Linked DNA regions of Homo sapiens: all the other regions are reported to be linked to region 3. Evidence: microRNA targets listed by miRTarBase, many of them from high-throughput screens and not tested one by one. Region 3 holds a microRNA gene; each other region holds the end of a gene's coding sequence.
The links. Region 3 holds the annotated microRNA hsa-miR-616-3p (AGUCAUUGGAGGGUUUGAGCAG, at 4,294-4,315, shown strand). A microRNA usually pairs through its seed, bases 2 to 8, with sites in the 3' UTR of a target mRNA and lowers its output. Matches are read on the target gene's strand: a 7mer-m8 pairs with bases 2 to 8, a 7mer-A1 pairs with bases 2 to 7 and ends in A, and an 8mer does both.

Region 1: miRTarBase lists INTS6 as a target of hsa-miR-616-3p. Seed matches in the 3' UTR shown: 7mer-m8 at 5,078-5,084.
Region 2: miRTarBase lists SERTAD2 as a target of hsa-miR-616-3p. Seed matches in the 3' UTR shown: 7mer-A1 at 2,437-2,443 and 7mer-A1 at 5,821-5,827.

The regions. Positions count from the first base shown.
Region 1 is chr13:51,358,023-51,368,190 of GRCh38, reverse strand. INTS6 (integrator complex subunit 6) reads left to right here. Exons shown (of 18, transcript NM_012141.3): 17 at 293-386; 18 at 2,346-6,614. The coding sequence ends at 2,439. SERPINE3 (serpin family E member 3) reads right to left here. Exons shown (of 10, transcript NM_001386375.1): 8 at 6,827-6,913; 9 at 6,298-6,381; 10 at 3,456-3,952. The coding sequence ends at 3,909. Among named protein-coding and RNA genes, the nearest start is that of MIR5693, 14 kb to the right of the region's middle.
Region 2 is chr2:64,627,926-64,638,093 of GRCh38, reverse strand. SERTAD2 (SERTA domain containing 2) reads left to right here. Exons shown (of 2, transcript NM_014755.3): 2 at 1,219-6,473. The coding sequence starts at 1,223. The coding sequence ends at 2,167. It overlaps SERTAD2-AS1 (SERTAD2 antisense RNA 1), which reads right to left and starts at 1,170. Exons shown (of 2, transcript XR_940172.3): 1 at 1-1,170.
Region 3 is chr12:57,514,716-57,523,497 of GRCh38, reverse strand. MIR616 (microRNA 616) reads left to right here and starts at 4,239; the gene lies at 4,239-4,335. It overlaps MARS1 (methionyl-tRNA synthetase 1), which reads right to left. Exons shown (of 21, transcript NM_004990.4): 16 at 8,647-8,778; 17 at 8,440-8,544; 18 at 8,162-8,348; 19 at 7,507-7,578; 20 at 7,161-7,253; 21 at 6,846-7,063. The coding sequence ends at 6,917. DDIT3 (DNA damage inducible transcript 3) reads left to right here and starts at 2,984. Exons shown (of 4, transcript NM_004083.6): 1 at 2,984-3,080; 2 at 5,745-5,792; 3 at 6,060-6,229; 4 at 6,318-6,905. The coding sequence starts at 6,092. The coding sequence ends at 6,689. It overlaps LOC128125814, which reads left to right and starts at 3,018. Exons shown (of 2, transcript NM_001414991.1): 1 at 3,018-3,080; 2 at 5,745-5,786. The coding sequence starts at 3,018. The coding sequence ends at 5,786. It also overlaps MBD6. RefSeq lists silencers at 443-842, 2,557-3,016 and enhancers at 1,266-2,226, 2,227-3,186, 2,013-3,212, 3,087-3,216, 3,187-4,148 and 4 more.

The DNA of each region.
Region 1 (10,168 bases), not on the chromosome of region 3:
TTTAGTGATACTACCATAAAGCTATTTACTCATCCTTTTAAGCTTTATGTTTGATACCTTAATAGGAACTTTTACTTACAAAGCAGGGTTTGATTAGTTGTTTTATCTTTGTTGCTGTGTACTTACTTTTACATATATGTTAAAATATAAAATCTCTAATGAGTGGTGAAATTTTTATGTAGAATGTTTTTATCTCAGTATATCTTAATATCATAAACTGCAAAAGAAGAATATTGAATAAGAATACAAATGAAAGGCACTTAATTTTTCTTTTTGTTTCTTTTGCTTTAAGAATATGAAAGAATCTTCACTTTACTGAAGCATGTGCAAGGCAGTTTACAAACAAGACTAATATTTTTACAAAATGTCATTAAAGAAGCATCAAGGTAAATAAACTATTGCATATAATGAAATGGTGATGAAATGAGTCCACAGTTTATATAGGCAGTATTTTAATAGTATCCGTTTTGCACTTGTATTGTTTATAAATGTATATGGCATACCAACATATAAATAAATTCTTATTCTTTTTTAGTTTATTGAAAGAAATTCACTTAGAAAACAGCCACACATACATTCTTCAGGAATTATGGACCTTTTCTCCCTACAAATTACTGGATACTTGGAGAATTCTTGTTATTCTTCTCTGTAGCTTTTTGATATCTTTACATTAATATTTTATAACCTTTAATTTTTCTCCTTTATACATTAATATTGGTGACTAAAAATAACGTACTTGAGTGTCATTTATTTTTACATGGGAAAACGTAATTAAGGAGACAAGAATTGGACAAATGGGCCTTATTCTGATTGTTTCAGTAGCCCAGGATCATTAGTACATTGGCCCTCTGTATCCCTGGGTTCCACATTCATTGGATTCAAGCAACCACAGATTGAAAGTATTTGGAGGCGGGGAAATGGATGGTTGTATCTGTATTGAATATGTACAGGCTTTTTTTTTCTTGTCATTTTCTAAATAATTCAGTCTAATTCATATCGTATTTACACTGTATTAGTATTATAAATAATGTAGAGATTATTTAGAGCATATGGGAGAATGTACATAGGTTACATGCAAATATTGGGCCATTTTATACAAGGGACTTGAGCATTCGTGGATTTTAGTGTTCATAGGGAGGCCTAGAATAAATCCCCCATCCATACCGAGGGATCACTGTGTAAAGAAGGTGGATAAAGGTTATAAATGGTAATTAAGAAGTGCAATTAACTGGAAAACATAGTTGTATGAGTTTAAAAACATTTTTTATTTTCCCTTCAAGATTTTGGGGATTTTAGTATTATAAGAAAACTTGGGGCTTATCACATCCCACCTTCTAAATGTAAACACACTTATACTTTGTCCCCCTGTCTCTTCTATGCTACACATGAAGATTTTAGATAAAGTTGGTTTTGTTTCTGGTTTTCTTTTCTTTTTGTACTTTTGGAGTGGCTAGAGCATAGGCCAGTTTGCAGGATCAAGATAAGGCTATAACTTTTCATGTAATTTTGAGTATTTAACCTATTATGCTCTTTATGGTAACATTCTGTCAGCTAAAACCTCATTAGGAATTTATATCCCCGGTATCTGTACTTCACTTCTGCCACCTTTTAGAGAGTTGTGTAGTATTATGGTGGCTATTTATATTAGCTTCTAAGTAGCAAGGAAGTAGGAATAAAATGTCCAGTGTCTTGGGATATTCTTAAAACCGTCAGCAGTTACGTATACAGATGCAATTTTAGTCTGTCCATATTTGTTACTGAAAATCTTTAAAAGTTGTTACTTGAACTTTAACTGCTTGCTATACTCTGTATTATAGATGTCTATCCTTGATTTGCTAGCTCTCAAATTGTAATAGAATACCATGGTTTTTAAATGCTGCTGACCAATTTTCATTTCTTCTTCCATTTTGTGGGAGATTATATTCATACTTTGTTCACATTCCTTTCAATATTCAGCTTACAAAGAGCATGAGAAGAAGCTATTGAAGTATTTGCTTGGGGAGCCCAAATTTCACTAGAGTGTTTGCAGCCCTTGAATATATTTTGAATATATTAGTTTTTTGTTTTTTTGTTTGTTTTTTCCTTTTTCTTTTCGGTTGTGGAAGGAACAACCTCTTTCCCATTGTTTAGCCCTAGAGTGTTTTAGGGACAAACTATAATACTGTACTAGGATAATAATTTGCTAATCTTTCAACATATTTTATATTGTCGTAGTATTGATTTTTCTATTTTCATTTCACTTTGAAAAATCTTCCCAAAATTTTCTCTCCTTTCTTAAAAAAATTATACTGATATATACTATTCATTAAAAAGTAATTGAGAGTACTATTTATTTTTTCATACAGGTTTAAAAAACGAATGCTAATAGAACAACTGGAGAACTTCTTGGATGAAATTCATCGAAGAGCCAATCAGATCAACCATATTAATAGCAATTAAAAGAAAATAGAATGTGGCCACTTATTTCACTATCTTCTTCAAATACAAAGTAAATACAAGACTGTTGTGATCTTGCATTCATTTTCTGACATGCATTGTTGGCTATTTGAAATACTAAAAGCAAATCTACAGATCCTTTTTCCATCATTTTACAGTGACCTTTTCTTCATTTTGGTTTATTTTTGTAATGTGAAAAGTATCACTCTAAAAAACATTTTTAATTTAACAAACTAAAAATATTCCTCCAAATCTCTTGCTTGTCATTGACTCTTGCGTGTCAATTTCCCTCAGGTTCTATTTTCTTAAACCAACCTTTAAAATTGTCACCTCTGTTAAGGTTGAACTTTGCCAAAAAAAAAAGAAGTTACTTTGTAATTTTTGGGGAAAAAAGCACATACATTAAAACTAGGTAATGTTTTGTATATACAGTTATTTTGGATATATTATTGTAAGTTGTACAAATGTATTTTGAAGAATATTTAAGAAAAGCACTTTTGTTATTCCATCAATAAATGCTCTATTTTACTCTTGTGTGGTTTAGGAAATAATCACATTTAAAGTAATCATTTAAAAACATCCTAAGATAATGGAATTTTAAAGGCCTTGCTTTTTAGCATTGGAAAAATACACCACTTGAAGTTCATGTTTGTTAAGCCTAACTGTAATTACATGTTACATAATCTGCATTGCCTTTTTACTATATGTTCGTAGTTTTTGTTGGCCATGCCAACATACTCCCATTTCTGCCTAGATTATGGGAATGACTTTGTATGGGGCAGATAGACAGATACTTTAAAAGCTATTTAAAAAGCAAACAACTTTGGATATTATTGGTTTCCTTACTTCAACACCTTTTCCTTTATCACTAGGATTGTGGATGGCACGAAGCTGAAGCTGTTAGGGAGTGGTAGGTTTGGAGTACAGTACATGCTCTGAAATATCTAGCCTTTAGCAGCTTCATGCCATGCTTGCAAAAGCCCACAACAAATTGGAGGCCTCCTTGTTCTGCTCTGCTGTTCTCACACTTAAACTCTGTTTTATTTATAAGCTAAATGGAAAGGAAACACCTTTAAGATGACTTTGCTCATTTTGCATCCCCCCTGAGTTTCACAGGATAAGGAAAACCACGCTATTCATTCTCCACCCTCAATTCAACATGGCCTAGAGTATCCGTACTGAGGAAGCAATCTTATGGCCTGACTCACTCACCATTCATGATCACTGCTGTGCCTTTTAGTGGTTTGGGGGGTAAGCAGTAGAAAAGAAGGTCAAAATAGATTTGGATTAAGAGTAGGCAAAATAAACTTATAACATTTAAAAACTGAAGTATTTTTAGGTTTATAATATTGAAAATCACATACCCTTAGCTTTTTACACTTTATCAGACATTTTTTTAAATTTCAAGGGTATAGCAAAATGAAATTATAACTTTATGAAGAAAAGCATTGATGAAAGTGGAGAACATGCATTTAGTCTAGGGGATTTGAAACTCTCCCAATACTGAAGACAAACCCTGTCAAGAAAAAGAAGAATTTAATATTATATAGTATTTTCATATGCAGTTCTTTAAGCTTTGTTTACTTCTATACAAATACTTTTAAGTAATGCAAGATAACATTTAATAGATGGAATTGTTAAGGTAATTGCCTGTAGTCACATTGCTAAATTCATTGAGAGTTACACAAAATCCAGAATATATTGTCTGTTCCTAAATTATATATATTTAGATTCTGGAATTACTAGGAGGAATTAGAAGTCATTCAGATAAAAATTCATACTTAACAAGAGTATCTAGGAAAGAGATTCAGCCCATCCCAATATTGAGCAGCTTTCCTTATCAGAAAGTTTTATTTTCTGTTTCACAGATTGCTCATGACCTTTAATACATTTTTCTGAATGAACCCTGGAGGGAGGTGAGAAGTAGCAGTTTTGTTCATCTCTTCTTTTTGTCCTTTATCTCTCTGCCACTGTTCTCACCTCATCCTAAAACCTGGTCAGGAGGGTTTGAAACCTATCAGAACTAAAGGTTAATATCTCATCTCCCTCAGGCTTTTTTCATTTAAAAAAAAAATGGGTATATTAGTTAAATTAGAATACTTGTTGTAGAATTATTGTCAAAGGGGAAGGGAAATACATCTAGGGGAAACATCATGTCTTTTAGGCCCTTTATGTCACTGAATGACTTAAGGCTCGACAAATGATATTCTTGGAAAGTTTAATCTTGAGGTTTTCAAATCTTTTTTTTTAATGTCTCCCATGTTTCTCATTTGCTGATTGATTCATTAGTTGCTCTTAGTAAGATTTGTCAGTTGGAAATAATGAAGGCTGAGACTCATTTCTAAACTCTTCCATAACCATCACCAGAAGAGCAGCCACTGTGTTGTGTGATGTAGGCTAATGCCTCCCAGATAGAGGTAAAGTCACAAGGACTATTAGAATTCCAGTGGATTGTGGAACTGGTTTTGGATTATCCTTATATTTTCATTCTGATTACTGAGGCAGTTCTGAAAACTCCTACCATTGAAATAGTGGTGTGTCTTTTCCTTGTTTAAGGATTTTACATCATTTTTATGCACTTGAATTCCAAAATCAGAATCTCTCTTTTACCTATCAACCTTTATTGGCTATTGGCTTTTGGCAATGACCTTTCTGTTCAAATGTAGTCCTGTCTCTTTGTTTCCTTAGGGAGTAGAACCTGTCCTTTTTCTCATCTTTCATTTTTTTGACGTGTCCTTTCTAAGAGAAGGCTCTCTGCCGCCTGTTCTGGGTGATAAGTGATATTTTCATCTAATCGTTATGTGGTTGGGATGATCATGGTGAAATACTAGGAAGACATACTCTGTTGATGGACTTTTTCTCTCCAAATAATCCCAAATAGATTATTTTCTAGTGAATGGTTTATATCTTTCTCGTCACAAAAATGTTCCTTTGATTTCTAGCACAAGGTACAGCAGGATGCAAATGATTCTCAGATAAAATGATGTTGACAGTATTTCCTTAACAATTTATGTAAAACTATGCATAATTTTCATTCTAACTTTTGACATTTTTCTCCATAAATAAAAGTAATGCCTGATGTTTAGTTAAAGTAGATCCACCTTTGCTTGATTTTATTAGTCTTGTTCTATCCTATTTCTTTTTAATACACTGTTTAGACTTGCCAACAACTCTTAACTGAGAATCTCTTTTCCTTCCTAGGCTAAGTAATTGTGAGTGGGGGAGGAAGAACATTAAGAGAAATAATCTAAAGACTTTGTTCAATATTGTCGAAGCCTAAGAATATTTGTGTGTCCTTCTGATGTACTGAGGCTTTGCCGGTACCACACCATCTTTGGATTACCATAAGGTTATGTAGTAGGACTTAAAAGTACTAGGGCAAACATTTGATTTTTGAGAAAGATCAACAGAACAGTATAGAAATCCAGGTGCATTCATTAGAATACTAGGATCACAAGAGGACTACTCTGGTGTACTCTAGTGACCTGAAAAAACTCTAAAATGATAAGAAAGCTAGGGGACAAAGGGAAAAAAGGGCAAGATTTATAATTTATTTTACTTTCATGATTTTTCCAAGTGTCTTCAGAAGTAGAAACCTATAGCATTAAAAAAAAAAATCTACATTAACTATATATGAGCTGAGAGAATGAGAAGGTAAAAAACATGGAGGATAAGTTTCCTTTGTACTTACGAAATAGTCCCCTTTCTTAGGATAGAAGATAGCAACTGGGTAGCTTCTGAAGCACCATAAAAACAGCTAGAAAGAATGCTTATTTTTGAGGGGATAGTGGACAAATGAGCCCTTGTTGCTAGAGAGACACTGATAAATTATCTGAATCCTGTCAAAAAATACTGTAATACCTGTGTTAGGTTCTCTCAGGAAATAGATGAATGGCCGATCTGCTTTAAAAATAGGAATCCGAGACCTTTTCAATAACAACAGAGCTGCAGGAAAGAAAGAAAAATTCCATTGCATTTTCTGTGCATTTTTAAGAAAATAACTATTGGTTATGAAGTAAGTTAATTTTTTAAGAAATCAAAGCATCCTAATGGCATTTGATTGTTTACTGTTGTGATGGGGGTGCAGATGGGAAAATTAAAGAGAAAAGATGCCATTTAGCCAATCCTGTCTCCTGTTTTCAACACATTCCATGGAATAAATTCCTTATTGAAGGTAACTTTCAGAATTATTTTTATGGGATGGATATCTCTTCTTCCCCGTCATTTTTCAAAAACTTTTTGTTTTCTTTAGTGTTCCTTTTTAAAAAATACTACACCACACCTGAACTTGGGGGTTATGGAAAGATTCAGAAGTGTGAAGATTCAACTAGGTAAATTTCAGAAAGGTAGATATGGGTAAGCAGTGTGACTGGGTATTCTCTGAACATACCTGTGGCTCCAGATGCCTTGGTGCCTTCCTCCAAAACTTCAATCTTGGCCTTGTGGATTGCTTCAGAAACATAAAAGCCATCTTGGCCTAACCACAGAAAATGATAAAAATGTGAGTTGCTCATTAACATTTTTCTAACACATTTAGAACACATTCTTTAAAAATGTACTTACAAAATTTATAGTATCCAATGCTGCTTACTGTGTAGCTAGGGAAAGAGTGGAAAATTCTGTTTTTGTTTTTACTGGAGGCTCAGGTAGCTGTTTGGAAAATTCTTAAGACTCAATATGTTACCAAACTTTAATTTGTTATATATATTTAATTTGTTAAAATATGTAATCGCTCCCAAAATAATATTCAGAGCACTGCCCCATTTTTTCAGTGGTTCATTTTCAGAAATGATTCTAGTTAAAACTACAATCCCTCCTTCAGCCAGTATTTCCTAAACTTCAGTGATCATAGGGTATGTGTTAAAATGCAGATTCTGTAGCCCGGGAATCATTTTCACCAAGCTTCAGAGATCATTTCCCTTGAATGCCTTTTTGGACTGCACTTTAAGAGCCACTTTTAAATGACAAAGTCACAGGTTTTTATTACAGGCTTTATTGAGGCACAATTCAGAGTAATATGAATGTGTCTAGTGTTGCATGACTGTATTCTGTATACTTAGGTGTATCAGTTATGCAATTAATTTGCCTCATGGGCTAGAATCTACAAAGCAAATGAGAGGTTAGTATAAATGTTCTATGTGCTAACAGTTTCACAGATTATAAGTTTAGCAAATAGGACTAAGTGATAATTTAGAGGAATTGGCTGATTTTTGTAAGCTAATCATTAACCATTTTTAAACAGCTCCAAAGATGAAAGGATACTTGATGACACAGTAAAAAATGAAAGATTTAGAACCAGAAGAAACTTAGGAAATCATTCAGTCCAATCCTTTCATTTTAGAGTGAGCTGTGAACTCACCTGAGATCACACATTTGAAAAGCAGAGTTGAGAATATTCTGATTGAAAGCCCACTCCCATCCCACCCCTCTCCTCCATTCAAACACTGCCGCCTTTCAGAAAGTGTATGCTAGTCAGCTCCAACATGCCACTGGGAGGTATCTGTGGCATGAATGTTAAAATGATCAGTTTGATGAACACATATTGTGTGAGGGAGCTTTGTTTCATCTTAGACTAACGCTTAAATTGGTTTGTGTTTGTCACGCACACACAGGAGATAGCCCATGAATGCCATGAGAGAATAAAACCAGACCAAAATAAAGAATATGCGGCATTCCATCCATCTTGTAAGATGTGCACAGGATGTTGGGAGTTGGCTATATTCACTGTAAGGAACAGTTATTTTCCAGCATCAGTGAAGGGGACAGGAAGGGCCAGAGGAAGTAAAAATCAATAGAAACATTCACTAGTGTCACTTGTCCTAAAATCAGCAAAGAATTTGATTTATTTTAGCAGTTGGTCTTTTTCTCTAGGGTCTTTAAGAAACAAATTTCACTATCAATAATTAGCCCCTCTTACTAGCTAATTAAGCAAACTGAAATGCAGTGCCAAAGTTACAAAGAGCTTTAGGGTTAAAGAATGGTTATTTGACAGTCATGAGAGGCTTTTACTAATCTCCGAGACTTCATGACTATATAGGATGGTGTCTGAACATTTTAAATGAATGTTGGTGAAATAAGCAGAGATTCACTATGAAACCCCTTATCAGCTAAAATACAGTAAATGTGTCTGTATTAGTCTGGGCACCTTGGCAGTGTGAGAAATGAGACCAGTTGATGTGGATGAGTCTGGTTAGATGGGCCAGGCTATTTCAGTATTTTGAAACTGCAACTGAAGAGTTTCATTTAAACAGTTTCTCTCCATCAGACTATAGGAGTGGTCCAATAATTGACATTTATATGTTTGCACAGCCATAAACCAAGGTCCATAGCCTATGTCATGCCCCAGCATCAGCATCTTTTAAATTTTATCTCTGGTAAGAGTTGACATTTCAAAAGACCAACATATGCGATAAAAATGAGAATATGGGAGTCATCTATGGTTTTGCATTTTTCCTCCCACTTGATCTTGTATTACAGATTCCTATTATTTTTTATTGAGTAGCTATTGAAATATTACAGAACTAATGAAATGAACCTAGAAGTCAAGCACAAAGGGATTCTCCTGGTCTTTTTCTACTCCCCTGAAGTGTTGACAGCTGCTTAGTGCCATTGAGGGACATACGCCCTATTTTCCCAAAAGTTGTTCTCAAGATTGTTTATAGGTGGCATTCTGTAAAAGGGTTCCATGATTAATTATATGTGGGAGATGCTAAACAGTTTTGCACTTTTGTTTTCAGTAGGGGACTTCTTAGAGCTGCTAATCTGCTAACTTTTATAGTGAATCTCTACAGGACAATTATAATACATAGCGTTTAACCATAGAACCACCCACACCATTCTCTGTCCCAGATTTACAGGATTAGCATTTTGGGAACATACTTTGGGAAACTGTAGCCCACCATAAACTCGCTTGCTCCTACAATACAACATTCTATATACAAAGCAAAGGGGTGATACTCTTCCTACCCTCCCTCCTGGCATACTCTCCACTCTTCTTCCATAACATCTTCTATGGGTTTTTACCTTCCTTTTTAGACTATTAGCTCCTAGAAGCATAAATGATGTCTTAATCATTTTAAATATTTCTTTGCCCAACTTACATTAAAAATACTTGGTACATTAATGTGTTTAGTAAATGCTGGATGAATTAATAATAGACACCCCTTACCACTATACGAATGGCCTTAATGTTCTTTAACCTTGTTAAACTTGTAAGGAAATGCTGATTGGTGTTTGTAGAACCATAAAGGCGTGGCATAGAATGGGTCATCTGCAAGTCTCAGCCAAATGATTGTTTCAGTGCTTTGTTGGTGGACACCGTTATTCTTTGTGTATGGCTGGTCATACTCAAAAGGTTAAAAGTCTTCAAAACATGACGTTGTATAAACATTGTGTCCCAACATTTCATCCTCAGCTTCTCATAAATCAGGATAAACATATCATTTGCTGTTTCTTTTGTCTTTACAATTATTTGCTGTAGCCAGTGTTAGTGGCTTTTAAAATGTTATTGCCAGAACTTGCTTCTAGTTTATCTTTTTCATCTTGTCACTTAGTTGCTAACACTAAGTGTTAGGGAGAGGGGGCTAGAGAGAGAAACACATAGCACCCGGCCCAGGAGAGGGAGAGAGAGTGCTAAGAAGAATCTGAAATGGCCTTTGAAATTAGGCTATGGTTAGTTGCTTTCTCCATTTGTCTCCTCTAGCCCACTCTGCACCTCTTTCTATTGCAATTC
Region 2 (10,168 bases), not on the chromosome of region 3:
GGAGCAAGCATGGGCCTGGCTTCATTCGAACCACGATCCTGGTCCGAACACCAAAAGACAGGTTTCTTGTTAAATGGTTAGAAAGTGAGATCTTTGAGGCAAAGGCTAATGAACTTGAGATTGTTCTGTTTAGACAGTAGAAGTTCTGAAAGGAGGTTGTGACGATGTCACATGATCTTGGAAAGTTGGAAGGCCCACTCCCCAGAAGGTGACAACCAGTTGATAAAATGTATTCACTAAGGCCAGAGCAAGAGAGGACACAGCCTGGCCTGTGAGCAGCAGGCAAGATGGGGCAGGAGTTCCTGGCTGCAGTTTTAAAATTCAACCCATTACCAGATTCTCAGGGTCTGAGATATGAGGTCATGGTTTCCTCAAAATATGCATGTATCTCTGGAATCACAGGAGGTAGTTTGTTAGGAAATGTCTCGAGTACCCAAACAGCAATGCTTATAATCAGAGCTAATTACTTCAAAATTAATCCAGTTGTCTTCAAACATAACTGTGTGTGGATGAAGTTGAGCCAAGGAAGAACTTAGGCTGGGACATACGCATTCCTCCCCTTGATTCTAAATGAAAAGTGGCGGCGGCTCAGTCACTGTGGTCATTTAACACAGGTGCAGTGCTTCACCACATGTCCCCAACCAGGCAGAAAGACTCCGTGCTTAATGAGGAAGGAAAAGCATTTTGAAAGCACACACAGTTCTACCCAAATTATACATGTTACCTTTCTTTAACTTGGTTCTTTTAATCCTTTAAGAAGTGCTCAAGCTGTAATCTATGACACCTGTATCTGTTTAGGTCATAGCATTGTAAGTGTTTTCTTGGGCTTTAAAAATAAATCTACGTGGGGGAGGGAAATCGAACCTGCATGATAATCTTAGGCATGCGAACACAAGCACATGAGCTGAGAAAGTCAAAATCATGGTTTCCATGGTAATTCTTAACTTGTCTGTGTCGTACACATTTCTCAAGAAATACACTCACCAGACTACCTAGTGATAAAAATTGCTCCACAGGCATACAAAGGTGGATTTTCTAACTCTCTCTTATTGTAAAAGGTCTTCCTTCCTCCCACCCCTAATTAATCCACGTGTACTTGTAAATAACCCTGGGCAGGAAACTGAGGTCCAAGTCCTGCCCTCTAAATCAGTCTCTTTTTTTATGGGAGAAATCAGCTTTCATGTGATTAATGCCATTTCCTCTCTCTCCCCTCTGCAGATATATGTTGGGTAAAGGAGGAAAACGGAAGTTTGATGAGCATGAAGATGGGCTGGAAGGCAAAATCGTGTCTCCCTGTGACGGTCCATCCAAGGTGTCTTACACCTTACAGCGCCAGACTATCTTCAACATTTCCCTTATGAAACTCTATAACCACAGGCCCCTGACAGAGCCCAGCTTGCAAAAGACCGTTTTAATTAACAACATGTTGAGGCGGATCCAGGAGGAACTCAAACAGGAAGGCAGCCTGAGGCCCATGTTCACCCCCTCCTCCCAGCCCACCACCGAGCCCAGCGACAGCTACCGAGAGGCCCCGCCGGCCTTCAGCCACCTGGCGTCCCCGTCCTCCCACCCCTGCGACCTCGGAAGCACTACGCCCCTGGAGGCCTGCCTCACCCCGGCCTCACTGCTCGAGGACGACGATGACACGTTTTGCACCTCCCAGGCCATGCAGCCCACGGCTCCCACCAAACTGTCACCTCCAGCCCTCTTGCCAGAAAAGGACAGTTTCTCCTCTGCCTTGGACGAGATCGAGGAGCTCTGTCCCACATCTACCTCCACAGAGGCGGCCACGGCTGCGACTGACAGTGTGAAAGGGACCTCCAGCGAGGCTGGCACCCAGAAACTCGACGGTCCTCAAGAGAGCCGCGCAGATGACTCAAAACTGATGGACTCTCTGCCTGGGAATTTTGAAATAACGACGTCCACGGGTTTCCTGACAGACTTGACCCTGGATGACATCCTGTTTGCTGACATTGATACGTCCATGTATGATTTTGACCCCTGCACTTCCTCATCAGGGACAGCCTCAAAAATGGCCCCTGTGTCTGCCGACGACCTCCTCAAAACTCTGGCTCCTTACAGCAGTCAGCCTGTCACCCCAAGTCAGCCTTTCAAAATGGACCTCACAGAGCTGGACCACATCATGGAGGTGCTTGTTGGGTCCTAAGACCCAGGGACCCAGCGACTATGCCCACCCAGACCCCAGAGCGTTCCCATAACCCTGACAGTTCTCCACACTGTGCATGCACCCTTGCTTGCCTTTTTCAGAGAAAAAGAAAATTTTACAACAGGATCACACTAGTTTTTGCTTTGAGCAGAGTTGGAGTGCCTTCATCCAAGTATGACCACTTTTAATACACTTTTTTGAGTGGTTCCTCAGAGACCTACTACCCTGGTATAGGAAAGAATCCATTTGAAGACAATGTTGCAATGTTGAATGACAAAAATAAACAGTTCAAGTGAAGCACAAGGATTAAGTTGGAAAAGCTGTAAATTGCATGTGCATATTTGTCTATTTTTTCTATAAGTTTTATTGCAAGAGGTAAAGAAGAAAACTATATATATATATCTTATTTAGATAATCTCAGTACCTTTTCTGGCATTTTTGCCCTGTATAGGTTGACTTGGCAATTCGGCCTTTTTAGAGGCATTAACTACTCCTCGTAAGTGTTGCATTTACATGGCTGTTTAGAAAACTGCTGCCCAAATTTATTTTATATTTTTGTACAGATTCTGCAGTTTATGATATTGTTTTTCTAAAAACAAATGCTGTTTATACATATGAGATAGCTATTTTGATAGGATTTGCTCACATAGTTCCTGCAAACTTCAGATGTACAAGTTGCACTTGTACTTTTATAGAGTTGTAATGTTTTATATGTGTATGGTGCAAGAGAAAATTGGATCAAATCAATCTGCAGTTGATGTCCCCAAATGCAAACACAGGCACACACATGCACACACCCATAAACACACACACAGTGCTTTAAGAAAGGGCCAGGTGATATCACACCCAAATTTCACAAGCACTGACCCCCTGGCACCAACACCCGCCAGTACTGTGACTTCCAAAGCCAGAGCCACATGTGCTCATCAAACTTGCATTAAGCAGTTGGCGGGAGATGGCTGTGGAGCTGGGGGTTTAAGTGATGGTTCTCTTTTGCTCCCTCTTTTGAGGGTAAAGCTACTGTCTTTCTTAAGAGTGTATTTATGCCAAGTTTGCGCTTTTAATTGTTTTTATTTTGTTTTTTAATGAAAACCCAGATCTTTCCTTTTTGGCATAATTTTTATGATGACCTGAAATTTTACATCCGAACAAAATTTTACATCCGAAAAGCAACCAACTTCTTCATGGAACTCAGCCCTGTTGCAATGCTTAGGGCCCTTAAAGAAGAAAATCTCCCCAGAAGGCATCCATCATGTTGCTTAATTGTCTTCTGCAGCTTCCTTTCCCTAGAGCTTTCCCTGTGTTGCTAAGAGCTGAAAATGGCATCTTCGTGATCACCACAGTGAGCTTGGCTCGCCTCGGCCGGCCCGGGATGCACTCTTACAACATGTGTGACTCTTGAACCTGGAGTTCATCACATTACGTCACAGCTTCCCATCTGGTTGCTTTCCTGAGTCAGCTACTTCACACTTGTCAAGGCTGTTTTACCCCAAAACTCAGACAGGACTTTCTATGCATGTTTTCCCTCCTCCCCCCAATTCCCCCCCCCATCACCTTATCTCCCAGGACACACTTGAGAAGTAGCTTTTTATTCCTAGTGGTGTACATTTAATTTTAAAAAGGTTGCAATGTATCATGCTTGTTGCCGAAACTGTTTATGGCCTTCTTGTTTCAGTTTTTTCTTTTCTTCCAATGGTACTTTAGCTGTTGAGTGCAGGTTACAACCTATATTGTTATGCAGATGGCTTCTTTAGGAATAACTTTTATATTTATTTAAAAATTTTTAAATTATGGGATGTTTTGTTGTTGTTGTTGTCTTTGTTGTTGGTCATTTGTCAATATTCAGTCACCAATTCTGCTCACTTCTTGCCATGGATAAAATTGGGTCTTTCTGGCTAATTAAAAAAGACAACTTTATAAAATGGCACTTTAAGCAAGCCATAGTTAGTTTTATTTTTGTAATGCACATGGCAAAGCAAAGACGTTTGTGATGAAGGAACTGCTCATCTAAGCAAAAGATTTGAGTATGATATGATAAAGGCTTTCTACATTCTAATTTACTTTTTCCCCCCACTTGAATGTGTTTTAAAGGCTAATTATCAGCTCAGTAGAGCAGTGAGAAACTGATCAAATTGCACTTGTTCTCCTACAAGCAACCTCCACGCAGACACCTCGTACTGCTACAGGTGTGTCATTTCCTTTAATAGGACCAGGGACCATGTAACTGAGGTGAGGGTTGTAGTAGATGCTTCCAGTGTCAGTATGCCTGTTAATTTTAAGAGCTTCCCTTTCTTGCAGAGAACAAGTCTGCCCAGATTCCATGCTTTCTATAACTGGAGGACCTGGCAAACCTGCCGCATGCTGCACACATCTACCTACGTACACATATACAATAGTATTGATGATTCTGAACAATAACAGGGTAAAACAGTTGGTTTGCCATTGTTAAAAACTGATTTACAGTAACTTACAACAACTGTACTTTTGTTGGATTAGCAAATCATGTGTTTAAACAAATCCCATATGTTGGGCAACAGTTCAAATAAGCACGGAGAAGTGTTGCCCAAACTTGGTTCTCTGACTCTTATGTATTTGTAAGGCTGGGCTTCAAAATCAAAACAAAAACCCCAAAAACAGCAGGCAAATGCTTTTTAACTCTGACACCGTTGCCATAAATCCCTGATACTCAAAGTCTAACAAGAAAGACATGGAAAATTAGCAGCCCATTTTCAGAAAGATCAAAATGATCTAGGGTTCTAATTGCTTTTGCATCCTATTCTTACAAAGTGATGTCCCAACAGGGAACAGTAGGAGCTGGAGTGGGATCTCCAAGTCCCAGTTTGAGTGTGGGATGTGCTTCCAGCAGTGCCTTCCCTTTATGAAAGACATCACATGGCATCCAGGGCCAGGCAGGCAGCTTGAGGTGCCTTTACGAGAAAACCGAGCTGGGGCTGGGAGAGGACAGTTATTGACACTGATGTGCAATGAAGTGACAAGATGAGAGCAGAATCGTAAGAGCTTTGAATTTGAAGTGAGTTTTTTTCCCCCCATAAGTTATTTATTCCTTTTTTCTGTGTAAATATATTTATTTTACTGTGGAGCGCTAACATCTGGATCGTAACATGTGCAGAATGTATGGTAGGAATGTATTCTCTTGTAGGAATGTAAATCTGTATTAAAAGGGGGTCCAAGCCAGGCCCCCAGGTCTTCTCATTGTATGCACAGTCCGCATTCATTTTTACTCTTCTCTAATATGGGTCTATTTGAAATATGCAAAAGGTATGAGGAATGTTTTAATACCTCCAAATTTTTAAGAAAAGCATCAAAGGGTTGATATTTTTTAAAGTTTTTTTAGTAGCACTTTCTCTGGATGACAGAAGGAGCAACCACATGGGCACCCTTGTTCATACCAAAGGGTGAGCAGTGGCCAGAGCCTCCTCTGCACCTCTCGAGTGTCTTTACCAATTGAGCTTTTTATCGCCATAGCCCCTTGGAGTGCCCCAGCTGCCCTGAGGTCAATCAAGGAAAATTTCTTAATGAAATAAGCTCCAAAGAGCCAAAGTATCAACTTACAGATCGTTTTTAAAGCTTAAATTTATGAACCACCTTTGTGGTAAACAATGAATTATGAATACCGCAGGGCAGCCTTCTTAAATGACAAATGTAAAAAAAAAAAAAAAAAAGACTCTACTTCGTGCAGCAATTGCTACTCTATACGAATTGTCTTAATTTGAAAACCTTGCTGTTACAAATTGGACCTTTATACATTTTCTGAAAACAATGAAAAGAGTATATTTAACCTTTTCTGGCTGTAAATGGTTACCTTCCTGTAACTGCCCCGCACCTGGAGGCATGGAGTTGTGTGCATCCTGCTTATGTACAATTGTTTTCAGTGTTTCTAAGAATGAGTCTGAATGGTTCTTGAAAATTAGCCAGGATCAAATGCTATTGCAGACAAAGCCAATAAAAAGTTGGACTTCTTTTGGGGATAACAAGTTTTGGAAGAGAAATGCAGGCCATATGTGCGCATGACCGAGATTTTGAAAAAAGATGTACATAGTGACATGTTTGGTGCATGGTTTTTGAGGAGGGCTTTTGTCAAAAAGGAGGTATAACCTTTCCCCCACAGACCTGAGAGCTGTGCCTTTTCTATGCAATATTACAGACGTTACATCGGAACCCAGATGGCTGTATTCACATGTAGGTTTGGGCTGTAATCTAAACAATTGGACAGATTAAATGTACATGGAAATGAGCAGTCTTACTTTTGTAGTTTTATATTATACAATAAACAGTTAAAAGATGAGAGAGGCATGCTTGCAGTTTTCTTTTGATGGGAGCTCAATCAGCTTATTTGTGACAGTTTGCTCACATTAAGCAAAGTCCAGCAAGAGAGAGCAGCAGGGGGGCCCCGAAGGAGTGCGTGCTGTTGGTCTTCCTGAACCGTCCTGGTCTCAGGAACCACCCTTCTCTCCTGGTTCTCCTCCTGCTTCTTGGACCCTTCTGGACCTCCTTTTTCTCACATCTGTGCCCCAGCTCTCTTTAAAACATTGTCTTTTCCAGGGTTTGGCCCATGACTGCACTTCACTGAGCCTCCATTCCTGCTGCCTCTTGCTTTCCCAAGGTGATCTAATCCACTCAGGACTCTCAAAACTGGTCTCCAGCCCCTGCCTCTCTCCTGAGCTCCAGACTTCAGTATCTACCAAGATTTGCTCCCTCACTCTCAGCGCGTCTAAAGAGCTCTCGTTTCCCCTGGGGGCTGATTCTTCTGTGGGCTCGTTGTCTTCAGCACTCTGCTCCACGCTTGGCTCAGTTGCCCACCCTTGCACCCTGTTCCGCAGTCCCAGCCATGTCATTCCCTCTGCCACCACCTCTCCATCCTCACCATAGCGTCCCCAGCTCGGACCCTTTCTCTCTCCTTGCCTCTGACCGCCGTACCTGTTTCCTGACTAGTCTTCCTGCTGTGATCGTCTCTCTACCATCCCTGATGCTGGAGTTGACATTCTAAAATGCCAGTGGGTCACGTGGTTGTTGCACGTCCTCCAGGTGTACCCACTGATTATACCATCTGGACCCTGCCCCTGCTGTCTTCCAGTGGGGAGTGGGGGAGACCCTGTGCAACCTCCTTGGCCACTGGGCTGTCTTGGATGGAGTCATGGGATCTGGCCTCACCTGGCCTAGGCAGTTTTTTATTTTGGTGTGGTTGGGCCACCACACCACTGGCAAGGGAAAAGGGATGGATGTGTGAGACCTGGGAAGTGAAGGTTCAGCTCAATCAGCAGTGGAATGTGAGGTGGGGTGTGAAGTGCTGGGGAGGTGTTAGGGGCTGAATTGTTTCCCCCAAAAAGGTAGGTTTCAGTACCTCAGAATGTGACTTTAATTTGGAAGTGGGGTCTTTATAGAGGTAATTAGGTTAAAATGAGGTTATTAGTGTGGGCCCTAATTCAGTGGCTAATGTCCTTATAAAAAGATATTTGAACACATACATGCATACATGGAGAAGGCCATGTGACAGTGAAGGCAGAGACTGGGGCGGTGGATCTACAAACCAAGGAGTGCCAAAGATACCAGCAAACCACCAGAAGGCAGGAGAGAGGCATGGGACAGACACTTTCTTACGGCCCTCAAAGCAACCAAGCCTGCTAGCACCTCAATCCTGGACTTCTAGCTCTAGAAAAATAAATTTCTGTTGTTCCAGCCACCCAGTCTGGGACACTTTGTTTCAGCAGCCCTAGCACACTGATGCAGGGGTAGAAGAACAGGGCGAGCACTTTCCAGACACCCGGCGGAGATAAGCACCAGGCAACTAGGACGGAGGGTCCGTTGTTCAGTAGAGTGGTTTGTATCTGGAATTAGGAGCTTCTGCTATTAATTAATGATAAAACTTTGGCAAATCATTCAATCTCTGTATTTATGAGGATGAGATAAAGCGTGGCTCCCAGAGCTCTTTGAAAATGTTGACAGTACAATGAAAATGCAAATTATGAATGTCGTATCTGTCCTCATGCCTAGAGCTGTGCCCAGCATATGGTAGGCACTCAAAATGTTTGTTGAATGAAAAGAAGAAAAAACAATCTTGTAGTTCATCTTTCTTTATAGAATGAGAGAAGCCCAGCACTCAACATCTTTCTTGTCTGGGTCCTGGGTTCACACCACACTCGCCCTCAGGATGTGCTGCTTTGCCAGCACGCACCAGCAGCCTGCCTCCACGTGTCCTTGCTTGCACCTGCCCCTTCTGCTTGTGGAAATTCTGCCCATCATTCCAAGGCCAAACTCAAATGCCTGTCCATGAAACCTCTGCATGCCTGGAGTCAAAACCAGCCTTTTCCTCTTCTGGGCTTTCCCAGAGCTCCATGCCTCCGCAAATGCACTTAGCAAGTCCTGCCGCGTCTTCGGATTAGCTGTGCAGTTTGTTGTCTCTGTACTCCCTGTATCCTTAAGAGCAGCAACCCTGTGTTGTTTATCTTTGACAGAGGTTGGCAAACTGCAGCTTACAGGCCAGATCCTGTCCACTGCCTGCTTTTGTAAGAAAAGCATTGCTGGAACCTGGCCACGCTCGTGTATCTGTGTGTTGCCCTGTCTGCTGTCTTACTACGATGGCAGAGTTGAGTAGTTGCAAAAAGACCACATGGCCCTCAAAGTCTGAACTATTTGCTATTTGGCCCTTTACAGAAAAAGTTTGCCAAATCCTGATCTTTGCAACTCTCCCAATACTGAGAACAGCGTCTGACCATAGATGGGATAGGCTCAGGGCTACATAGACTGGGGACACACACCCCTGGAAAGATGAATACGGTACAGGCGTCAGGGGAGTCCTAAGGGTGCAGAATGCTGGAGGTGGGGTTTCGAGGGCCAGACGGGGCAGAGTAGTCTGGAAAGTTACACAAGAGTGGACATATTCAGAGAGCTTAAGACTTGGGAGGGGCCATAGAGCTAGATCTTCCCACCAAAGGGGCCTTTTTGACAGATGTGCAAACTGAGGCCCAGAGAGGGAAAAGGATTATTGTCTGGGGCAAAATAGTTTATAGCATCAGAGTTCAGTTTGGCTCTGCTACCAGATCTCCCAAGCTTGAATCCTGGCACCTACAATCTTGGGCAAGTTCCTGAGCCTCTCTGTGCCTCAGCTTTCTTAGCTATAAAACGGGGGAAATAATTGAGCTTGTCTCAGGGCATGGTGGGGATCAAATGAGTCAATGTGAAGCACGCTCGAGCATTTCTAGGGCACTGGAAAGTCCACAAATGTCAGTACAGCTAACATGATGGCAGACAAGGCTAAAATCCAGCTCTCCACTCTCAGCGCGGTGTTTTAGGTTAAGCCTCAAAGCACAACTGGGGTATCTTAATGCTGGAGGCATGTTTGCTGGGCAGAACCAAGATTTCCTAATACCTTGCATGTTGTGGTGGTCGGCCACTTACAGAGAACACTGTGCTCTGTGCTTGCATGGCAATATGTGGTCCCAGAATCTCTATTGCCTCTTCCATCTTCGTTTTAATGCCCTTTTGTTCCCCTTGGAGAGGAATATTTGACTGAATCAGGAGTAATAGTTTCCAGGGTTACCACTTACTGAGCACTCACATGTGCCAGACACTGCTATATACTGGTGTGTGTGAGCTCATGAACTCTTTCCAGCACTTTGAGCTTTATCTTACTACCCCCACTTTACAGAAGTGGCAGCCGGCTCAGAGAGGTTAAGCAGCTTGCCAAAGGTCACACAGCTGGCAAGTGGGTAGAGCTGGGATTGGGCCTCTCTGACTCTTAGAACACCTTCCAGCACATGTCTTGTCTTCAGCCTCGAAGCTGAGCAAGGTGTTCGAATCCGATCGTTACCTCTATAACTTCCCTGAACCTTGGACCTCTCTTCTTCATGGGGTGTGGATTTCTCCTGGCACGTGCACAGCATTGCCCTGAGGAACAAGAGGAGGAAGATCTCCTACTGGGGCCAGCAGTAGACCAGGAGTTAGGATAGCTCTCCAGGGCTGAATGCCCCGTCAGTTCTCTTG
Region 3 (8,782 bases):
GATCCTGGGAAGCTCCTGATTTTCCCTCAAGCCTACGGCAAAGGGATTCAGAACCTCCTATTCCACTGGCTTCCGATTATCTCCAAGAGAGCCTGTCCTCCGATAGAAGGGGAAGCCCCTCCAACCTGCAGGTATCCTCCCCAGCCTCACCATTGCTCCCACCCCACACTGGCGGCTTCCAAACTTTCCCTCTCACAACAAGGCGCCCTGTCACCCAGACTGCTTCCCTCAGCTTGAGGAGGAGGGGAAGGCGCACGAAGTAGGAAGGAACTTGGGGAGAGGGCGGGCGGAGGGTGGGCGAAGCACTGAGGGGAGGGCGGTGAGGAAGGCAGAAGTCTGGCAGTGAGAGGGAGAAGCGGCGGGGGCAGGTGAGGGCGGGGGAGTGGGGATGGGGCCGGGGAAAGGGGCCGAGAGGACGCGGAGGGGGCAGAGGGTAGGGACGGGAGGGGGAGGGGCAGGGTGGGGGGGGCCGGGCCCCGCACTCACCGCGGCCCATGGTTCGGCCGGCCCCGCCCTGCGCAGTCGCGGCCCAGAGGGTGAGTGGGAGGGGGTGGGAGGAGGGTCGGTGGAGCCCGAGCCTCCGGTACGGCCCCGGCCGGTCCTAGCAGGAAGCGCCGCTGCCGCCGCCGCGGATCACCGAGCGGCCTCCCGCGCATGCGCCATGGGGGCCAGGGGCAGCCCTGGGGATTCCGTTCCCAGAAGGCACTGCGCAGGCTGCTGCCGCTGCCGCCGCCGCCGTCGCTGCCGCAGCCGCCGCCGCAGGAGCCGCCGCCTCCGCCGCTGCCCGGACGGGAGAGGGGCGGGGCCGGGCCCCCGCCCAGCGGACAGCGACGAGCCAACTGGAGGGGCTGCAGTGCGCATGCGGGAGCGCGCCTACCCCTCCCCCACAACCCCCCATTAATCCCCAAGAGAACAAACACCCCACGCGGCCCCCCCGCCCTCCGCGGAAGGATCTGCGCCTCTTCCCAGGCCACTGGTGGCCAATCCCAGCCCTCCTCAGGGAGGGGCCCCTTCCAAAGCCACAGTCTGTTGCGGGAACCAGGAATGCCAGGTCCGGGAGGGGCCAGGCCCCGAAAGATGAAAGTCGCGACTTGCCCTGCCCCGCCCCAAAGGCTTCCCGGGTAGTGTGCTGGGACTTGACCCGCCTCCCCAGGTCAACATGTCACAACACGACCTCAGCCTGTCAAGTCACATGACCTCTGCCTGTCACTGACAACCTGGTCTGTCTTTAGGCCAGGGGAGACCATCTGGTCCACCCTCCACACTACCCCCATTTTCAGAGAGGAAATGGAGGTGTGGAGCAGCGGAGCAGCCTAACCAAAGACCTGTCATTGCCACACCACTCCAGTCACAACCGGCCTTGTGACAGTTTCTACTTAAACTCTGGCTGCCCCCATGAGGGTATGACAGGATATGTAACAGGCCACCACATGGCCTCTGTTTTCAAGGCACAAGAAAAATACTTTGCATTCTGGGTGGTGCGTTTTACTTTTGGTCAAGTTGCCTCCAAGTTCATGGTTCTCATTTTACCTTCACAACTTTTATCTTTAATTTACAAACAAGGACGGTAAGATCCCTTGGCAAGTGATGGGGAGTTGAGTCTAAAATCGCGGCTCCGGTCTCCCCAGTCCAGGGCAGTCCTGCGCTGAAGTGCACTCACACGTCCCGGGATGAGACTCCGCTGTAAATCTCGACCCGAACACCTAGGAGGCAGGCCTGTGCCGCGCTCCTCACACAGGGAGTCACAGGACTTGCTGTCTGGTACAGCAAGAGAGGGTCTTGGAGAAAGCCATAGGAGTACCGTGGGGGAAAATAGGTGGCCAAACAGAATCGGGTCCACTGGGCAAAATACATGACTTCTGGCAGGCTGAGGGCTTACCAACTACAAGGTAAAAGTCAAGGGCGCTGTTCTGAGAGAAGCGGAAAATGACTACCAAGGGATTCCAGTACCTCGGCCCCTTTTGGGAGATTTACGGGGCTAGAACAGGAGACCACCCCCGTTTTTTTGTTTGTTTGTTTTGTTTTTTGTTTTTGGTGAAACGTAGTCTCGCTCTGTCACCCAGGCTGGAGTGCAGTGGCGCGATCTCGGTCACTGCAACATCCGCCTCCAGGGTTCAAGCGATTCTTCTGCCTCTGCCTCCAGAGTAGCTGGGATTACAGGCGCGCATCACCACACCCGGCTAATTTTTGTATTTTTAGTAGAGACGGGGTTTCACCATGTTGGTCAGGCTGATCTCGAACTCCTGACCTCAAGTGATCCGCTCTCCTCAGCCTCCCAAAGTGCTGGGATTACAGGCGTAAGCCACTGAGCCCGGCCAGGAGACCTCTTTAAGAAGACTCGAGATGTCGACAATCCCAGTGGATGGATACCAACTTTAAAAAGAAAAGTTCAAAAGGCCTATGTGCCCATTAGCTGGGAGGGGCCAAGAAATATGGGAGTCCCTTATAGTGGGGGTAAAACGGCGGGTAAAGCTAGGTGGGCGGAACAGCAGCTTCTGGGGGAGACAAGCGGCAAAGAGGCTCACGACCGACTAGGGGCGACCAAGGCTGATAGCCGTTGGGGCCGTTGGGCGCCGGGAGCTGGCGCCCCGCCCTCTCTCCTCTCCCCCACCCTCCGCACCTCCCACCACCCTCGGTGTCCCCTGCGCGTGCGCGTGCAGACACCGGTTGCCAAACATTGCATCATCCCCGCCCCCCTTTCCTCCCCTCCCCCCCCGCTACACTCCCCTCCGCGCGCGCGCATGACTCACCCACCTCCTCCGTGAAGCCTCGTGACCCAAAGCCACTTCCGGGTCCGACACTACGTCGACCCCCTAGCGAGAGGGAGCGACGGGGGCGGTGCCGCGGGGCTCCTGAGTGGCGGATGCGAGGGACGGGGCGGGGCCAATGCCGGCGTGCCACTTTCTGATTGGTAGGTTTTGGGGTCCCGCCCCTGAGAGGAGGGCAAGGCCATGGTAAAAGATTACAGCCAGGCGCTCCCGAGGTCAGAGACTTAAGTCTAAGGCACTGAGCGTATCATGTTAAAGATGAGCGGGTGGCAGCGACAGAGCCAAAATCAGAGCTGGAACCTGAGGAGAGAGGCGAGTACTGATTCCCATCTACCTTTTACCCTCCCGTCTCCTCAAAGTTGGGGCGTCCGCTCTTTAGGATCGGCCTCACTCCTCCACAGTGAAGTTAGGGACCGTCCGAGAGAGGAATGGGGAGAGTCCCTTATTCTGGGGTGGTGCTTACAAACCCCTATTGCTTCGGACGACGGCGTCTCTCCACCCCTGCCCGGAGCCGGAACACGGGCCCTGCTCTGTGCTGCTGGGCAAAGGGACCTCGGTTGCCCTTGGGAAATTCATTCTTTCCCGTAGCCAACTTCAGGCCTCATCGTTAGGCCTGTCCGCGGGGAGGCAGGTCAGCAGGACACACCCCCGCTCTAAGACTGGGTGACCATCGCTCAGGCCGTTTCCGCCGCTTCGCCACCAGCGGGCCTTCTCCCTACCCCACCCCCAATTCTGTCTCAGTCTCAGTGCCTCTGGTGTCAGCATGGCCACCTTGGTAGCTGGGGCTACTGGACCCTGCAGCGGATAGGGGAACCTTGAGGAGACACAAGCCTTTGGGAGGGGTGCCGATGGACAGGGAGTGGTGTGTTTTCCTTTTGCCGTAGAGGTCTCTGGGCCTCCTGCACAAGAGAGCAGCCTGGATCTCTTAAGTGTAGGAGGCCATTTGGGGTCTCCCCAGGGTATTGTCCTTCCCTCGGGATTAGTCCCTGCCTCTTTAACCCGGTCCTGTCTCCCAGCTAATCTCTGTGTAACCATTGCATCAGGCCAGCCCCGTTTGGCTCTGCAGCCTTCTGACCTGAGGCTCTACTGCTGATGAAAGCCAAGTCCCACACACTGGAAGGCAAGGGAGGGTTCCCCAGGGAGGACAGCCCTGCAGAGAAATACTTCGGGCAATATTGCATCTCTAGCCCCTAGGGATCAGCAGCTGCCACTCTGCTTCTGCCCCTTCCCTATAAGAGAGACTGGGGGGAGTTTATCCATTCATTCTTAACAAATACTTAATGAGGACCTACTGTGTGCCACACAGTTTGGGGCTCAGGGTACATCCTTGAGCAAGAGGAAAAAATCATCTCAGTGGGAGGCCTACAGTAAACAAAATATAAGTGCCACGGAGAAAGCTAAAGCAGAGAAAGGAATGGAGAATGTTCAGGATGGAGGTCAGAGTGTTACATCAGGTGGTCAGGAATTACCTTAGGTAATTCCTCCACTCAAAACCCTTCAGTGACTTCCATGACATGAAATAGGAAGTCATTGGAGGGTTTGAGCAGAGGAATGACCTGTTTTAAAAGGCTCACTCAGGCTGCTGTATGGTGAATAGAGTTGCGGAGGGGTGGCAAGAGAAGAAATGGGAAGACCTTCTGCAGTCAGAAAGTTTCTGCAGTAATTTAGAGATGGTAGTGAATTGATCTAGATTGGAAACAATGGAATTAGAAGTGTTTAGATTCTTCTAAGCAAAGGTTTTAAAAACTCATTTTTAAAGAATGAGTTAAGGGCCGGGCATGGTGGCTCACACCTGTAATCCCAGCACTTTGGGAGACCAGAGGTGGGTGGATCACCTGAGGTCAGGAGTTCAAGACCAGCCTGGCCAACATGGTGAAATCCCATCTTTACTAAAAATACAAAAATTAGCCGGGCATGGCAGTGCATGCCTGTAATCCCAGCTACTCCGGAGGCTGAAGCAGGAGAATCGCTTGAACCCAGCAGGCGGAGGTTGCAGTGAGCCGATTGCGCCACTGCCTTCCAGCCTGGGCAAAAAGAGTGAGACCCGTCTCAGAAAAAAAGGAATGAGTTAAAATTTGCTAGTACTTTGGATTGCAGGGTGTGAGAGAAGAGGAATGAAGGATGATACCAAGGTTTTTAGCTTAAGCAACTAGAGTTGTCATCTGAGATGGGGATGACCTTGGAAGGGGAAAATCAGCAAGAGTTTGCCTTTGCACATAGTCTTAGGTGCCTATTAGACATTGAAAAAGAAATGGCAAGTAGGCAGTAGACAGCAGAGTCTGAAGTTCTGGAAGAGGTCCAGACTGGAAATGTACATTTGGAGGATGTCAGCCCTGTGGGAATGGAGTTAGGAAAATGCTATGATTTGTTCCCTTCCCTGTAGTTTAGTTTTTACCCTGGCAGATTTGAGGCCTGCTTTGGATTTAGAGAAAGCTGAGTTGGCCAGGACTTTACTATTATGTAACCAGGACTACAAATGTCAGCAACTAAAAATAAAGAAAGTCAGGCCCTCTTCTGCCCTTCGAAATGGCTACAGGGACCAAGTATGCATACCCCACAAGACCAGAAGTAAGGAAGGACCAGTAGGAGGCTGGAGGTAAAAGAAAAATAAGGGCCCAGCACGGTAGCTCATGCCTATAATCCCAGCACTTTGGGAAGCGATGGATCACAAGGTTAAGAGATGGAGACCATCCTGGCCAACATAGTGAAACCCTATCTCTGCTAAAAACACAAAAATTAGCTGGGCGTGGTGGCACGCGCCTGTAGTCCCAGCTACTCGGGAGGCCGAGGCAGAAGAATCACTTGAACCGAGGAGGCAGAGGTTGCAGTGAGCCGAGATCGCACCACTGCACTTCAGCCTGGCAACAGAGCAAGACTTGGTCTCAAAAAAAAAAAAAGAAAGAAAAAAAGAAAAAGAAAAGTAAGTTGCCTCTCCCCCTTCCAAAAATGGCTGACATTTCTCTTTGTTGCCCACAGTGTTCAAGAAGGAAGTGTATCTTCATACATCACCACACCTGAAAGCAGGTAAACTTAACCTACCCTTTTCCAAAAATTTTAAACGGCAGGACAGTAAATATTTTAGATGTTAAAAGTCCTATAGTCTCTAGCGTGACTCTTCATCTCTGCCACTGTAGCACCAAAGCAGCCATAAACAATATGTAAATAAACAGATGTGGCTGTATTCCAGTACAACTTTACCTACAAAAACAGGCATCAGACCAGCTTGCCAACTTGTGGCATAGACTGTTTGCTACATGGAGCTTGTTCCAGCCACTCCCCATTATCCTGCAGATGTGCTTTTCCAGACTGATCCAACTGCAGAGATGGCAGCTGAGTCATTGCCTTTCTCCTTCGGGACACTGTCCAGCTGGGAGCTGGAAGCCTGGTATGAGGACCTGCAAGAGGTCCTGTCTTCAGATGAAAATGGGGGTACCTATGTTTCACCTCCTGGAAATGAAGAGGTAAGAATGTTAGCCCTAAAGCTAAAGGGGGATGTTACCTTTCCCTTCTCAACTAATATCTATGTTCCCTTTCCTCATTTCCTTGAAGGAAGAATCAAAAATCTTCACCACTCTTGACCCTGCTTCTCTGGCTTGGCTGACTGAGGAGGAGCCAGAACCAGCAGAGGTCACAAGCACCTCCCAGAGCCCTCACTCTCCAGATTCCAGTCAGAGCTCCCTGGCTCAGGAGGAAGAGGAGGAAGACCAAGGGAGAACCAGGAAACGGAAACAGAGTGGTCATTCCCCAGCCCGGGCTGGAAAGCAGCGCATGAAGGAGAAAGAACAGGAGAATGAAAGGAAAGTGGCACAGCTAGCTGAAGAGAATGAACGGCTCAAGCAGGAAATCGAGCGCCTGACCAGGGAAGTAGAGGCGACTCGCCGAGCTCTGATTGACCGAATGGTGAATCTGCACCAAGCATGAACAATTGGGAGCATCAGTCCCCCACTTGGGCCACACTACCCACCTTTCCCAGAAGTGGCTACTGACTACCCTCTCACTAGTGCCAATGATGTGACCCTCAATCCCACATACGCAGGGGGAAGGCTTGGAGTAGACAAAAGGAAAGGTCTCAGCTTGTATATAGAGATTGTACATTTATTTATTACTGTCCCTATCTATTAAAGTGACTTTCTATGAGCCAAGGTCTTTTACTTTTTCTTCTTGCCTTTAGGGGCTTCAGGGGGTTTCCCCTCAGCTACAGCCAACTGTTTCTTTAGATCCAAGAGTTTCGCCACCTCCGCAGCAACCTCGTTCTTGTCTGCCTTTTGTGCTTTCAGTTCTCGGACAATGTTTCCCTAAGATAAAGGGGGGTGGGGAGGTAACAGTGAGGCAAGAAAAAGATCTATTTAGGATTCAGCTTGTCCAGTCTCCCACAGGGCTTAAGCTTCATACTTGTTTTGTCACTTCATCCATCAGCGCTTGTATCTGCTGTGGCTTGGCTGTTGTAACAGTCTCTACAACTGCTGGCTTCGGGGACGTTTTTGCCTGGAGAACAACAAAGTTATCACCAGCAACCATAAATATCCCCTAACCTCCAGTTTTATACAGCATCTCAGAGGGAAAGTGGTTACCTTTAAGTCGAAGGTCTCTTCTAGTTAAGACAGGAAAGAAAAACTGTAAGTGAGGAAGCGGCAGGGCCAAAAGATGGAAAGAGTGATGGGTGAGGACTACTTAGGGAAATTAGGGAAGTGATGCTGTGGCTGTTGTGGAGCGAGGGCACAGCCTTTAGCTTTCTCACCTGGCCCCCTCCAAAGCGCTGCCTTAAACTTTCAATCTGGTCATTTTCCAATTTTTGGAACAAGGGACTGACCTGTAAAAAAAGAGTTCCAGAATCATCTACTGATTGGATACAGACTCTACCATAGACTATACAGATGACCTCTCCAACCCCAATCTCTGATGTGTTTTAGAAAGAACGAGCTTAACACTGAGCTAATATCTGCTGATTTTAGGAAATTAGCTGTAGCTTTCCCTGTGAAACCCCAAATAATTTGTAGGGTCAAAGATTCTTTAAGCTCTCTAAGGATGCTAGGCTGATCCAGAAGTTTAGCAATGTACTTACTTTTTCATTTTGTGTCAAAGAGGAAATGGCTTTCCTGTATTTTCCCTGCCCACTATCTGCTAGCATTATGGAGACTAGGTGATCACAGTGTTTCTTCAAATATCTGTTTACCAGTTAGTTTTGTGTGCCAGGTTCTGGTTTCTGGCATGAAGAACAATGAAGATGTACAGATAATTCCGGACTTGTGAACGACTACCAAGGACTTTATATCAGAAACTTAGGAGTCCCATGACCAAAGTAACACTGGAGAGATGTTAGGTCTTCTCTCACCCACTCCAAAAGCTGCATGGCAAGAGTATCAATTTTAAGAGAGGCTGGCTCTTCCACCTACTGTGCCAATCTGGTGTCCTGCTGGTAAGGTACACAGGAAGTTTGTCAGCAGGATACTGCAGGCTGGAGGTGGGAGCTGCAGCTGGGCCTGGATTGTGGCACTAACCGTGGGCATGTAAGGCTGAAGCATGACAGAGAGCAAGGCAGCTATATTCACTGCCAAGCCAGTCACTGTTCCTGCCCGTTGCCTGAGGAAGAGGAGACATTAGTCAAGACCTCCAGGAGGATACAGCTTACAAGCCACTTTATGCCTTTAGCCAACCCTCCCCGCTTACCTACCTGTCAGCCTCACTGCCTTTAATCCGCTTCCAGGGCTCATTCACCTGAATATATTGGTTGCCATGTCGAGATATGGTGAGGATACTGCGCAAGGCATCCCGGATCCTGGGAAGGGAGGAAGCAGGCCAAGGTGTAATGTCCTACAGAGACCAATACAAGGAGGCTCTCAACATGCCAGCAGAAAAGACAGAGGTGTCAGTTACTTACCGAACCTTCTCAAGTAGCTGGTGATAGTGCTGGAGCTCCAGGGTGACATGGGCCAGCAGGCGCTGATCATCAGGGGTGAGCACCATCTCAGGCACATAGCCCCCAAAGAACTTAGACACAAACATCCCAGCTCTTG